2 linked regions of the Homo sapiens genome follow. The protein of the gene in region 2 purifies or fractionates together with the protein of the main gene of each other region. This does not show direct contact. Each region holds a gene or a part of one and is shown on either strand. Other genes may lie near its edges.

Region 1 (3,825 bases), on a different chromosome or scaffold from region 2:
AGTGAAGGGGTTTAAAAAGGAAAAGGTGTGGAAGAGATGCAGGAGTGGTGCAGGTCTGAATGTCTTGTTGTGATAGTTATATTGAGTAATTGCCCATCTGGAGGTATGGTTTGTGTCATCTTGACTTCAGCTGGGTAATGCTAGGCTAACTGTTCGAAACTCCCCCCATGCAAGAGGAGTCTGCAACTCCATCTCTGCTTGGTTTGTTTCAAAACTGGCCCCTGAAATTTCTAAGCAAGTACGTAATTAGATAAGTGAACACTGTTCATGGACATGCCTGGTGGGAAAGGGAGAAACTAAGGGTTTCAAAGTATGCTTCCAGGCTGAAAGCAAAAAGGAAAAAAAAATGTTCTAAATTGCATTTTGAGGGTTGGATACTCGGTCTATGAAAAGTGATGAATTAGCTTCTCTATTAGTAAGACTTTATAACATCTATATGTTTTTAAATTTTTACTTATTTATTGGTAAAGAAGCATTTAAATGTGGCAAGGTCTCTGACAAAGTTCTTAGTAACAATGTAGGAAGATGACTATAGTGCAACTTTGTGAAATTGACTTGCTAAAAGCAAATTGTTAAGCAGCTGGCTTAAAGCTTTTAGTTTCTCTCCCTCCTTGATTGTTTTTAAGAACTAAATACTCATATAGTTTGTAATATGTTCTGTTGTTTAGGCTTAGTTTATTATGATCAAATATTCTTGCTTTTTAATGACAACAAATACAATTTCAGAAACTAAAGAGTATCAAGAACCAGAGGTTCCAGAGAGTAACCAGAAACAGTGGCAATCTAAGAGAAAGTCAGAGTGTATTAACCAGAATCCTGCTGCATCTTCAAATCACTGGCAGATTCCGGAGTTAGCCCGAAAAGTTAATACAGAGGTAACTTTTCCACTAAAGTACAATATTGCTTTTTTGTTCATAATGCATTTCCGAAGGTTGATGATCATATTAAATGTTTTCTTTTATTAAATGTGTATGATATTTAGTAGAATAGTTTATTTAAAGGTTTTTAAAATCATTTATAAAGTGGTGATCAGTAGCAGTCATACGTTCAGTAAGTCAGGCTAAATTATTTTCTATCTTCGATAGTGTTTCTAGATTGCCGATAGACTGGTGCTATGGGCCAAATCTAGTTCTTAGCCTGATTGTGTAAATAAAGACTTACTGGAACACTGACACACTCATTCATTTAATGTCTATGGCTGCTTTTGCATTATAAGAGCAGAGTTGATTAGTTGTATTAGAGACCACTTGGCCTGCAAAGTTTAAAATGTTTACTATCTGGTCCTTTACCGAAAACTGTATGCTGATCTCTGAACTAGCGCAGTGCTGTCCCAAGCACTTAACAGTTTCCTGTGGTCATACTCATTGATAAAAATAGAAAAATATAGCCTAGACAACGTACATGAATTTGTAACATACTGAGTCATCATTCCTGGTGGCTTTTCGGAAGGAATGATCAAGTAGGATACTAAAGAGCTATAGCTGCAGTTCATGGCCATAGTTTCCTTACCATTTCTTTTCAGTGACTTGTAGTAAATATAGTAAAGGCTTTATTAATTCAGTGGTTCTCAAACATTTGGCCTTTTATACTCTTAATTATCAGTGCCCCTAAAGAGCTTTTGTTTATGTTGATTATATCTATCTCTATTTACTATATTAGGAAGTAAAGCCAAGAAACTTTAAAAATGTTTATTAATTTATTAAAAATAACTGAGGGCTGGGCACGATGGCTCACGCCTGTAATCCCAGCACTTTGGGAGGCCAAGGCGGGCAGATCACGAGGTCAGGAGATCGAGACCATCTTGGCTAACATGGTGAAACCCTGTCTCTACTAAAAATACAAAAAATTAGCCGGGTGTGGTGGTGGGCGCCTGTAGTCCCAGCTACTTGGGAGGCTGAGGCAGGAGAATGGTGTGAACCCAGGAGGCGGAGCTTGCAGTGAGCAGATATCATGCCACTGCACTCCGGCCTGGGTGACAGAGCGAGACTCTGTCTCAAAAAAAATAAAATGAAATAAAATAACTGATAAACTCATGTGAATATAAATGTACTTTTATGAAAAATATGTATTTTCTGAAACAAAATAACTACAGTGGGAAGAGTAGCACTGTGTTAGAGTTTTTACAAATCTAATGATTGGCTTAACAGAAGACTAGATTCTTATGTCTGCTTTTGCATTCAATGTATTTCATTATTACATGTCATACAGTCTCTGGAAAACTCCTTATATACTCATGAGAAAATAAAAGTGAGAAAGGTAAATATTGTCATAGTAAGATCTCTTAAGTAGTAGATGTAGATAACAAATGCTAGATGATAAGGATCCTGATAGGTTGAGTCATAGATTGTATCAAACCAGCATCTCCTCTTTTTTTTCTATTTGAAAATTGTACACTAATAGGATTGTAAGGGAACTGAAAACCATATGGATCATTAAAGAAATGCAAAGCAAAACCATAATTAGATACTACTTCACACCCACTAGGACGGCTGTAATTCAAGAGACAATAACAAGTGTTGGCAAGGATGTGGAGAATTTTAGAACCTTCATATGCTGCTAGTGGGAATGTAAAATGGTGCAGTCATTTTGGATAAGAGTCTGGGAGTTCTTCAAAAGGTTAAACGTAGCTTTATATGATCCAATAATTCCACTCCTAGGTTTGTAGTTAAGAGAATTGAAAACATACATCCACACAAATATTTGTACATAAATATTCATAGCAGCATTTTCATAATTGCCAAAAAGTGGAAATAACAAAATATCCAACCGATGAATGGATAAAGAAAATGTGGTACATCCATACAATGGAATGTTAATCAACAATAAACAGTAATGAAGTACTAGTACATGTTACAACATAAGTGAACATTTACAACGTGCTAAGTGAAAGAAGCTCACCACAAAAGCCCATATATTTTATGATCCCATTTAGATAAAATGGTCAGAATAGGCAAATCCATAGAGGTGGAAAGTAGATTAGTGGTTGCCAGGGGCTGGGAGCAGTGGGGAGTGGGGAGTGATTGCTAATGGGTGTGAGTTTTCTTTTTAGAAGACGAAAATATTCTAAAATTGGATTGTGGTGATGGTTGCACAGCTGTGAACCACTGAGCAACTAAAAACCATTGAATAGTACACGTAGAAAGAAAAAGTATAGAATCTAGGCAGTTTCTTGTGGATACTGCTTGTCCAGCAGTCCCTTCAAGGGAGGATTGTTTTTGTCTCACATCTCACTTACCATATGGCTGTGTGCTCTCTGTTCTGTGTCCAGACCATTTCTTCCTCTTTCTTGCAAAAGGCCTGCTCTTTTGATACTTCTGACTTACTCTCATCTCTGAATGTCCTGGTAACTCCCCATCATTCCTTGAAGATACAAGGCTCTGGATCAACCAGATCCCAACAACTGTCATTGTTTTTGTTGGCTTCTACACCCCTGTGTATTACCAGTCCTACAGCTGGCCTTCATTTTTCTAACTTCTTCGTGTCTCATGACCATTTCCTTAATTTTACTTTAGCCACCTACTCCTTATATCCTCAATTCTGACCTCCAAAATCGCAGATGCTAACATTCCACTCTATGATCGTGATCTTTTTCATTTTCCTTGTTCATTAATCTTATTACAGCAGTTCCTCAGTAACATCTTTACCACTAATCTTAAAATATGTGCGTGCTTGTACGTGAGCACAGACACACGAAGTCTTAAATGAGAGGGAAAATTTATCCTGGAAAAAAAATTTCTTGGCCAAGACTGAAATGTAGAAAGTAGGATAGATTTAGTCATTGTAATTCTCAAGTGCGTAATGAGGACCAGTGTGTTGAAATTATAA
Region 2 (3,794 bases):
CCACACCAACTCTCAAAGAAGGAGCACCACTCTTTCCTCCGGCTGCCAAGTAACCTAGTAGGTTCTGCCTAAGAAAGGGGAGTGCGTGAAGGGGGCCCAGGTAGAGAAGCAGAGGACACAGCAGTTTGCACAAGCTCGAGACAAGCTCAGGAACAAATGGGACCACCTAGAATTGAGGTGTGATTTGGGGAGTGAAGAAGATGGTAGGGTTTGGACTCATTCTTTAGGTGGTGGAGATCCAGAATGTGTTATAAGCAAGGGAGTAACATGACATACTTGGTTTTAGAAAGGGTAGCCAGGCAGCAGCATGGAGAGGGGACAGAAGGGTTTCTAGCCAATCAGAAGACCTGCAGTGGCCTCCGTGAGTGATAAGGAGGCCCCACCCGGGGTAGTGGTAAAAGAGGGATTAGTAGACAAGATCCCACAGGATGTCCCCAGTCAGGTGGCAGGAAGGTGAGGAGTGAGCCTAGTGCTGCCAGGTCTCTGCTCTAGGTGGTTGGATGACAGAGGTATCATTCCTGAGGCAGGCACCAGGCATGAAGAACAGGTCGAGAAAGCGATGAGTACATGTCCAAAGTGCCTGGGGGACACCCGGTCTGATGTGGTGGCAGTGACTGATAGAAGCCCTCCAGTCTGTACTCTTCTTCCACAGTTAGATTAGACCAAGAATTGTAGCCCAAGGTCTTTTGGAATAAAAATCAATTTTCCCAGTCTCCATTGCAGTGAGGTATGGTCATGGGTCTAAATTCTAGACAGTGGAGGTAAGTGGAAGCAACCATGTTGAACCATACGAGTTTAAGTCATGTGCTAAGGAAGGCAGAGCAACAGGACAGAAGAAAGCTGAAGGGAGGTACGTGGATGTGCCCTGGCTGGCTGCATTTACACTTCTCTCTTGCTTAAACCACTACTACTTTGCATTTGTCTTTCATGGCCAAAACTAATTCAACCAGTGCAGATGCCCAGGAGGGTCTAGGGCTTCGGACAGATTGGGCACCTATCCATATCCTAAGCAAAGCCCTCCTGGGATCAACCTTCTGGCCTGCTCTCTCTGGAGGGAGGTCAAACACAGAGGCCCTTCTGTGTCCTCACAGCTCATGGTACGTAGGGGACAGACAGCTTTCTACTTCCTTTGCTCTCTTTGCCAAGCTCTGAGTGCTCCTTGGGGCCAGGGTCTGTTGTCCATGTAGCCATAACAGGGATGCCAGGGCACCTTCCAGGCTAGAAGGAGGCTAGAGGGAGGTTCCAAGACACTGCCTGTCTAAAGCAGTAAACTATAAATAGGGAAATAAAAATATAAACAACCACGCAAACATTACCCTGGAGCTTCCTCGGTAGAGACGGCAAAGCTGATCAAATGCTTGGATTTGCTGTGGATCCAGAACAGGTTCTGAGGTTCCCTGAAAAATAAAAACCGATACGATTAACAACATCACGTGGCTAGGCAGCCTCTCAACTTGCTCTACACGATGCTGAAGCATAACATGGTGCTTCCTTCATTCTCCTGAAAACAATCCATGCTACCAGCTATTAGTGAGATATATACTGAACATGAGTTAGAAATCGGCACGTCCCCTAAGATCCCTCCTTGGTGTGGCTGCAGGTTGACCTGTCTGTGGACCCTTTTCCCAATGGAGTCTCCAAATGTCCCGTATGTATAGGTTCCTTTCAGGTTTCTTGATCCCTCTTTGGCACCATTATGCAGAGCTAGTTAGTTCCTTCCAGCCTTGCATTCCCATGTCCATCACTTCATACGGCCAGCAAAGATACCGCTTTTCTCTGTCATGGTAACAGGAGACGCACTGTCATTTAAAAATCTCATCCCTGTCTCATTATAAAGCTGGTCGCCACCTATGGGGTTGCAAGATTCGTCTGCTGCTTTTGGGAAAAGGGCCGGTCTAGCCTGCTCTTACAGCAGCCATGTTTTGTTCCACCTGTTATTGTGGTGGGACCTGCCAAACTGCGGTTCTTCTCTCAGTGGACCTGATCCAGCTCATATGCAGAGAGAAGAAATGGGATCCTGGGGGAGGCGGCCATAAGCTTTGGAGTCAGAGGAGAATCTGGATACTAGTTCTGACAGTAACCTGCTATGTAACTTTAGGCAAGTCACCTCACTTCTCTAAGCCTCAATTGCCTCACCTGTGGGAAGGAAGGGGTAATGCTTACCTTTTGAGATTACCAAAAATTAAATGAGATATATATTTAAAGTGTCGCCTGCCTAGTACCAGGCGAGGGCTCAGTATACGCTAGCTTTTCTTACAATTCAGAGATACCCATAGTTAAAAGTTGATTTCAGAAGTGTTTTTGTTTATGTATAAGATTGGTAAAAGGACGTTTTTCTTTGCCCTATATCATGAACCTGTCCCAAGCGTCTGCACTGCACAGGTTGGTGGGTAAGAGCCTGCACTGCAGAGTTCATCAGCCTAAGCCCAAACCCTGGCTTTAGCAATTACTAGCAGCATAATCTTAGGCAAGTTCTCCGAGTTGGGTACTTTTTGCTTGTTTGTTTGTTTTTGCTCACATGGGGATAATGACTATAGCTACATCACATAAAGTGGCTATGAAGATTCAAGAAGGTAATGCACACAGAACACGTAGCAGATGCACGGGACTCTGCAAGTTCTCACTGAGCGCTACTAACTAGAGAGCACAGGAAGGCCCGCAGGTACTGCGCACAGAGCCAGTCTCCAAGAAGCAACATCATGTGGCCCTCGTCCTGATGTGGCTACAGAAACAGAAAGGAAGGGGACATCAGAGCAACGTGCACAGGCAAAACTGGGTAATGAAGGAGGTTGGGGGATGTGCAGGAGAGGGTATGCCGAGTGTGAGAGGGAAAACTTTATGGAAATGAGAGCTGCTAAGGTCAGCTCCCTCTGTCTTGCTCACCAGTGCCCAGTACTGTGCTTGCACAGAGCAGCCACAGAGTCATCATCTGCTGATCAAATGAAGGGATGGGAGGGCCGGCATGCAGATTTCTGATTTCTTACTATTTATCACTGGCGTTGTGACCAACCCTCGCCATGCAGTAAGAACACAGGGCAGGGCTCTGACACACTTGGGCTCAATCTGGACTCTGCCCAAGACTAGGTGAGTGGCTCTGGGCAAGGAATTTAGCTTCTCTCAGTCTCAGTTTCTTTATCTGTAAAACTCTACTTTGCAGAATTGTTATGAAAATTAGACATAATGTATGGGCTTGGCATCTATTTGATGTTCAATCAATGGCAGTAATTACTGCGATTGTGTTGTTTATACTCCCAGAGAGAAGTGTCCCCCTAGAAAGAACAATGGGATGAAATCAGGAAACATGGGCTCCAATCCTGTTACCAGCTCCCTGTATAACCTGAGGAGGTCACATCTCTCCTCTGAGTCTTTGTTCCAATTGATCAAAGGGCAATGCCACCTCAGGCCACACTCCACCATCCAGGGAAGAGGTGGGCACCATGAGATTAACAGGCATTTAGGGCATGAAAGTTTCAAGAAAAACAGTAATGTTTACTGAGCCTAATCATGGCTTTTATCTTTTACTGCATATTCAGAAGCAAATTAGGGGCAATGTCACAAAGATACATGGCAGCCCTGAAGATAAGTAACAGTTTCCGTCTACAGATGCCAAATTAAGGTCAGACAAAAAATAAAGGGGAAGCAACCAAATATGAACATAATCTCTGTTCACTCCAAAAACATAAAAGTATTCTCAGACCACTAAACCTCCCCAAGGATAAAACTGGTTAGGAGTGATTTTCCAACTGGAAGAGAAGGAAAAATGCATTTGCTGCTGTCTGTTAGAGCAAATTTCT

What was found.
Region 1: the proteins of VPS8 (region 2) and TTK purify together in Homo sapiens (affinity purification with mass spectrometry; one large-scale study listed by BioGRID and IntAct). This does not show direct contact.

Annotation. Positions count from the first base shown.
Region 1 is NC_000006.12:80,021,598-80,025,422, forward strand, and holds part of TTK (dual specificity protein kinase TTK), read left to right. Parts: intron 1-726; coding exon 727-875; intron 876-3,825.
Region 2 is NC_000003.12:185,046,082-185,049,875, reverse strand, and holds part of VPS8 (vacuolar protein sorting-associated protein 8 homolog), read right to left. Parts: intron 1,398-3,794; coding exon 1,317-1,397; intron 1-1,316. UniProt on the Homo sapiens protein: Plays a role in vesicle-mediated protein trafficking of the endocytic membrane transport pathway.